Homo sapiens: one gene and its partner. The protein of the gene in region 2 purifies or fractionates together with the protein of the main gene of each other region. This does not show direct contact. Each region holds a gene or a part of one and is shown on either strand. Other genes may lie near its edges.

Region 1 (3,653 bases), on a different chromosome or scaffold from region 2:
CCCGTAAGCATTGCCACCTTCCCAGGAAGAGTATCAATCAATACTGCCCAACCCAAAGGGGAACTGGCCTGCAGCCCTGGAAAAGGCCTTGTTCTCTGGGTCTCAGGTCCCTCATCTGTAACTTTACAGAAGTTAAACCAGAAAAATTATCTCAAGCCTGGGGCTCTGAGATTCTGAGTGCCTACAGCAAAGAAATGGCCTAAGTACAAAGCTACAGCCAGGACAGAAGGGACTCCACCAGGAGAATCTGCCCAGTGAGTCACCATCTGCTCAAAGCAAGAAGCCTGCAGGAAAATCTGAAAAGCCTAAGATCCCCTCCAACCCCCTCAGGATCTTGGCCTGAGTCAGGCTAACATAGGAAAGGTCTTTATAGCTCACCACAGCTCAAGGCTCACCACTTTCCCTTTTTTTTTTTTTTTTTTTTTGAGACAGAGTCTCACTCTGTTGCCCAGGACCGGAATGCAGTGGTGCGATCTCAGCTCGTCCGCGACCTCCACCTCCCAGGTTCAAACGAATTCTCCTGCCTCAGTCTCTCGAGTACCTGGGATTACAGGAGTGCACCATGATGCCTGGCTAATTTATATATACATACATATATATATATATATATATATATATATATATATATATATATATATTTTTTTTTTTTTTTTTTTTTTTTTTTTTTTTTTTTTTGAGACGGAGTCTCGCTCTGTCGCCCAGGCTGGAGTGCAGTGGCGCGATCTCGGCTCACTGCAAGCTCCGCCTCCCGGGTCAAGCCATTCTCCTGCCTCAGCCTCCCAAGTAGCTGGGACTACAGGTACCCACCACCACACTCAGCTAACTTTTTCTATTTTTTAGTAGAGACGGGGTTTCACTGTGTTAGCCAGGATGGTCTCGATCTCCTGGCCTCGTGATTCACCCACCTCGGCCTCCCAAAGTGCTGGGATTACAGGCATGAGCCACTGCACCCGGCCAATTTTTATATTTTTAGTGGAGAGGGGGTTTCGCCATGTTGGCCAGGCTAGTCTTGAACTCCTGACCTCAGGTGATCCTCCTGCCTCAGCCTCCCAACGTGCTGGGATTACAGGCATGAACCACTGCACCCAGGCAAGGCTCATCACTCTCAATCCTGCCCTTACTGCAAGGGGCAGCCCATCCGATTTTAGGGCAGAGAAAGACCCTCTCCCAGCAGTCCACACTGACCCGCAGCACCTCGCCCTCCCTTCAGGGATGCTCTGTCCTCAGAACACAGCAGGAGAGCCACCAGCTGTCCTAGGGCAGCATCAGCAGAGAAGCCATCAGTGTGGACAAAACTGGAGTCTGACAAACCCAGGTTCAGCTCCCTGGCTTCCAGGCTCTGTGACCTTGACCAGCTTAGTTTACCTCTCTGAGCTTCAGTTGCATTATCTGTAAAGTAGAACAGTAGTTCCCATCTGATCAGGTGCTAATAAGACTCACCCCTGGGCAAGGTGCGGTGGCTCACACCTATAATCCCAGCACTTTGGGATGCCAAGGCAGGAGGATCGCTTGAGCCCAGGAGTTCGAGACCAGCCTGGACTAACATGGTGAAACCCCATCTCTACTAAAACTACAGAAATTAGCCGGGCATGGTGGCACCCACCTGTAATAACAGCTACTTGGGAGGCTGAGGCAGGAAAATCGCTTGAACCGGGGAGGTGGAGGTTGCAGTGAGGTGAGATCACATCACTGCACTCCAGCCTGGGTGACAGAGCGAGACTCTGTCACAAAAAAAAAAAAAAAAAAAAAAAAAAAAAAGGCCAGGCATGGTGGCTCACTCCTGTAATCCCAGCACCCTGGGAGGCCGAGGCGGGCGGATCATAAGGTCAGGAGATCGAGACCATCCTGGCTAACACGGTGAAACCTCATCTCTACTAAAAATACAAAAAATTAGCCAGGCATGGTGGCAGGCACCTGTAGTTCCAGCTACTCGGGAGGCTGAGGCAGGAGAATGGCGTGAACCCGGGAGGCGGAGCTTACAGTGAGCCAAGATGGAGCCACTGCACTCCAGCCTGGGCGAGAGTGCGAGACTCTGTGTAAAAAAAAAAAAAGAAAGAAAACACCCTAAATGTGGGTTATGGGGGACCCCAAGAGGCTCGCTTCTGGGTATTCAGCTGCGGGAAATGGGCAGTGACCTGGACTGCTGGAGGCTGAAGACAGACTGATTTTCTCAGGAATTAACAGGCTCAATTACAAGATGTAGTAGCTGTTTTTCCAGTTGCTGCTGGGCTCATTGCTTTGAGTCTCATCTGCAGTGGCAAAAACAGCAATAAAATAAAAAAATACATTAAAAAAATACTGTATCCTAGGATAAGCAGTTCGCTTACCGACCTAGCTCTGACCCCAAGACAATGCTAAGGCCTGCTCTGGTATTCTAAGAAGACGGCTTCAGCCAAGGCCTGGAGGTGACCCGTTCTAGAGAGAGGCTTCACCTCAATTAGGCCACAGAGTGGAAAACTTTTCCTCTCAGATCAGATGAGATTTGGCAGTGATATGAGGCTACTATGGAAACAGCCACCGATCTCCACTACTGCTGGGATCCCAACTGCCATGATAACAGTCCTCAACCAGACATTAATTTGTTGCGTGACAGTCAGCACGTCCTGCACCCCTCTGGGCATTACCTCTATCAGTTGTAAACTGCACTTCATAATCTCCAAGGTCTCTCCAGGGGCCAACCTTTCAGTGGACAACAGACTGCTTGAGGGTGGGAAGATGGATTTAGTCCCAAGCAGAAATAGATTTTTTTCTTTTTTTTTTTGAGACAGAGTCTCGTTCTTGTCACCCAGGCTGGAGTGCAGTGGTGCGATCTCAGCTCACTGCAACCTCCACCTCCCAGGTTGAAGTGATTCTCCTGCCTCAGCCTCCCAAGTACCTGGGATTTCAGGCGTGCGCCACCACACCCAGCTAATTTTTTATTTTTTGTAGAGACGGAGTTTCATCATGTTGGCCAGGCTGGTCTCAAACTCCTGACCTCACATGATTTGCCCACCTTGGTGTCCCAAAGTGCTGGGATTACAGGCATGAGCCACTGTGCCCAGCTGAAATATATCCTTTATTTATTTTTTTTAAAACAGAGTCTCGCTCTGTCACCCAGGCTGGAGTACAGTGGCGTGATCTCAGCTCATGGCAACTCCGCCTCCCAGCTTCAAGTGATTCTCATTCCTCAGCCTCGAAGCCAGTAGCTGGGACTACAAGCACGTGCCACCATACCCAGCTAATTTTTTTGTTTTTAGTAGAGACGAGGTTTCACCATGTTGACCAGGCTGGTCTCGAACTCCTGACTTCAAGTGATTCACCCGTCTCAGCCTCCCAAAGTGCTGGGATTACAGGCATGAGCCACCTCGCCCGGCCAGAAATATATTCTTTGATGTAGACAAACCTTTTCTCAAATTGCTTGTTAAGTGTGAGTGAAAGCATCCTTTCTATTTTTACTGACCTACAATACACACATGCAGTTAAACTAATCTGCTTGCTATGCAATCCGCTGGGCCGGGAAACAACTGCTTCTCCCACCCAGAAGCCCTGTAGCTATCGCCTCTATGGGTACTTGGCAAAGGTTGGCAGAGAATAACAAACAACACAGCAAAATAACAATTTATTTTTTCCTTCAAGGTCACTTTGAACAGTGAGTTTGAAGCTTCCCTTTTTTT
Region 2 (3,653 bases):
GTTTGAACTACTGCACTCCAGCCTGGGTGATACAGTGAGACTCTATCTCAAAACAAACATAAACCATAGTGCTTGGTATTCATTCAGTATGTATTGGCATTCATTATGTGCCTGACACTGAAGACAGAATAATTGTGGCATGTTATATTTTCCAAAGATGGCTGAGACAGCATCTTCCATTCCATATGCTCTTCTACATTCTCTCATTGAGAAGTAGAGCCCACTTCTTGAATCTGGTATGACCAGTTATTCACTGCTTGACTTCTGAGGCTAGTCAGAAAAGGCAATTGGCTCTACATTGTGCTGGAACACAAGCTTTTGGAGCCCTGAGCTTCTATGTAAGAAGTCCGACTACCTGGAGACACCAGGCTGTGAGAAAGCCCAGGCCATACAGATAGACCACATGCAAGCACTCTAGTCCACTGCCCCAGCTAAAGGCCCAACAGATGGCCAGAATCAACAGCCAGACATGTGCATAAAGATGCCTAGAGATGACCAGGTTCCAGTTATTGAGACTTTCCAGCGGGGATGCCAGACATCATGGAACAGACATAAGCCATTCCCACTGTGCCCTATCCAAATTCCAAAGCAAAAGAATCTATGCGCATAATAAAATGATGTTTCCAGGCACTACATTTTGGGGTGATTTCTGACACAGCAATAGTAATCAGAACAGTGATGAACCTGACAAGTTTCCTGCCTTCATAGAGTTTATATTCTAGTGGGGAAAGACATATAATTAGCAAGAAAATGCCAAGACAATAATATGAATTATAAAATGCTGGGATAACCGTATACCCATGTGCAAAAAAATGATGCTGGACCCTTTCCTTACACCATACACAAAAAATCAACTCCAAGTGATTCCTAGAAGATATAGTCAATATTTATACATTTCAGTGATTCATTTAAAAATTAGCTTGAACTAACACCTAATCTGAAAGCTTTAGTATAGTCTTACTGTAGGAACTAAAGCATTTTTTTCTTTTTCTTTCTTTCCTCCCTTTTTTCTCTCTCCTCTCTTTCTCTTTTAGAGATAGGTTCTTGCTCTGTCACCCAGGTGTGATCATAGCTCACTGCAGCCTTGAACTCCCGGGCTCAGACAATTCTCCTGCCTCAGCCTTCTGAGTAGCTAAGACTGCAGGTGCATGCCACCACACCAGGCTCATGTTTTAAAAAAACTTTTTATAAAGATGTGGGTCTCACTATGTTGCCCAGGCTTGTCTTGAACTCCTGGGCTCAAGCAATCCTCCTACCTCAGCCTCCTCAAGTGTTGGGACTAATACAACTGAGCCACCACAGCCACCCGACTGAAGCATTTCTAATGTTAACAAGTACATGGCCAGGTGCAGTGGCTTATGCCTGCAATCCCAGCACTTTGGAGGACAAGGCAGGAGGATGGCTTCAGCCTGGGAGTTCGAGACCAGCCTGCACAACACAGCAAAACCCCGTCTCTACAAAAAATACAAAAAGTAACCAAGTGTGGTGGCATGCGCCTGTAGTTCCAGCTAGTCGGGAGGCTGAGGAGGGAGAATCACTTGAGCCTGGGAGGCTGAAGTTGCAGTGAGCCAAAATTGCGCCACTGCATTTCCATCTGGGCAACAGGGTGAAACCCTGTCTCAAAACAATAATAATAATGATGCTAACAAGCACACGATCTGTAGAAAACTTAAACATAGTGATAACCATGATTTTTTTAAACTCTAAGTGGATTACAGAATTAAATATAAGTGCAAAAACTAAAAAATCTTAGAAAAAAGCACAGGAGTAAATCTTCATAACCCTGGGTTAGGCAAAGCCTTCTTAGATATTATGTCAGAAGCACAAGCAACACATCAAAAAGAAAACACAACAAGGGTATGGAGAAAACAGAATGCTTATACATTGTTGGTGGGAATGTAAATTAATACAGCCATTATGTAAAACGGTATGGAGGTTCCTCAAAATATCAAAAATAGAGCTACTGTATGATCCAGCAGTCCCACTACGGATATACATCCAAAGGAAATGAAATCAGTATGTCAGAGATATTTGCACTCACATGTTTATTGCAGCACTATTTACAACAGCCAAGATATGGAATCAATAAATGTCCATTAATGGATAAAGGAAATATAGTGTATATACACAATGGAATACTATTCAGCCATAAAAATGAATAAAATCCTATCATTTGCAACAAAATGGATGAACCTGGAAGAGACTATGTTAACTGAAATAAGCCAGACACAGACAAATACTACATGATCTCACTCATTTGTGGAATCTGTAAAAGGTGATCTCACGGAAGTGGAAAGCAGAATTTTCTTTCCATAGGCTGAAGTGGTTAGGGGAGGGGGAATGGGGAGATGTGGGTCTAAAGGATACATAATTACAGTTAGACAGGAATAAGTTCAAGAGCTCTACTGTATAGCATGGTGACTACAGTTAGTGATGATATATTCTTGAAAAATGAAAAGATGGTAGACATTAAATGTTTTCACCACCAAAATAACTGTGTGATGTAATACATTTATTAGCTAGATTTAACTACTCCACAGTGTATATATACTTCAAAACATAATGTTGTACACAATAAATACATACAACTTTATTTCTCAATTTAAAAAATCTTGGCTTGGCACGATGGCTCACATCTGTAATCCCAGCACTTTAGAAGGCCGAGGCGGGCAGATCACTTGAGGTCAGGAGTTCGAGACCAGCCTGGCCAGCATGGTGAAACCCCAACTCTACTAAAAATACAATAAAATTAGCCGGGTATGGTGGCACATGCCTGTAGTCCCAGCTACCTCGGAGGTTGAGGCAGTAGAATAGCTTGAACCAGGGAGGCGGAGGTTGCAGTGAGCCGAGATCACGCCGTTGGACTCCAGCCTGGGCGACAGAGCAAGGCTTCTGCCTCAAAAAAAAAAAAAAGAAAAAAAAAAATCTTCTTAGGCCGGGCACAGTGGCTTGTATCTGTAATCCCAGCATTTTGGGAGGCCAAGGTGGGAGGATCACTTGAGGTCAGGAGTTTGAGACCAGCCTGGGCAACATAGCAAGATCTCATCTCTACTAAAAAAAAAAAAAAAATAAGATTAAAAAAAATTTAATCATTTTAAAATTTAAACTTAAAAAAGCATAAGCAACAAAAGGAAAAATAAATAAATTGGACTTCATCAGCAATAAAAACTTCCATGGGCCAGGCATGGTGGCTTATGTCTGTAATCCCAGCACTTTGGGAGGCCAAGGCAGGGGCTTGAGCCTGGGAATTCAAGACCAGCCTGGGACCAGCATGGGAAACATGGCGGGACTCCATCTCTACAAAAAATTTAAAAATTAGCTGAGTGTGGTGGCACGCACCTGTAGTCCCGGCTACTCGGGAGGCTGAGGTGGGAAAATCACCTGAGCCCAGGGAAGTCAAGGCTGCAGTGGGCTGAGATCACACCACTGCACTCCAGCTTGGGCAACAGAGTGACATCCTGTCTCAAACAACAACAACAACAAAAAATGTCTGTGCTTCAAAGCACACCATCAAGAAAGTACAAAGACAATCCACAGAATGGGAGAAAATTTTTGCAAATAATTTTTCAATCAGGGTCTTGTATTCAGAATATATAAAGAACTCTTAAAACTCAACAACAACCAAAAATACCCAATGACAAAAATGGGCATAA

Evidence for each region.
Region 1: the proteins of POLD3 (region 2) and TECR purify together in Homo sapiens (tandem affinity purification; one large-scale study listed by IntAct). This does not show direct contact.

Annotation. Positions count from the first base shown.
Region 1 is NC_000019.10:14,532,529-14,536,181, reverse strand, and holds part of TECR (very-long-chain enoyl-CoA reductase), read right to left. Parts: intron 1-3,653. UniProt on the Homo sapiens protein: Involved in both the production of very long-chain fatty acids for sphingolipid synthesis and the degradation of the sphingosine moiety in sphingolipids through the sphingosine 1-phosphate metabolic pathway.
Region 2 is NC_000011.10:74,595,447-74,599,099, reverse strand, and holds part of POLD3 (DNA polymerase delta subunit 3), read right to left. Parts: intron 1-3,653. UniProt on the Homo sapiens protein: Accessory component of both the DNA polymerase delta complex and the DNA polymerase zeta complex.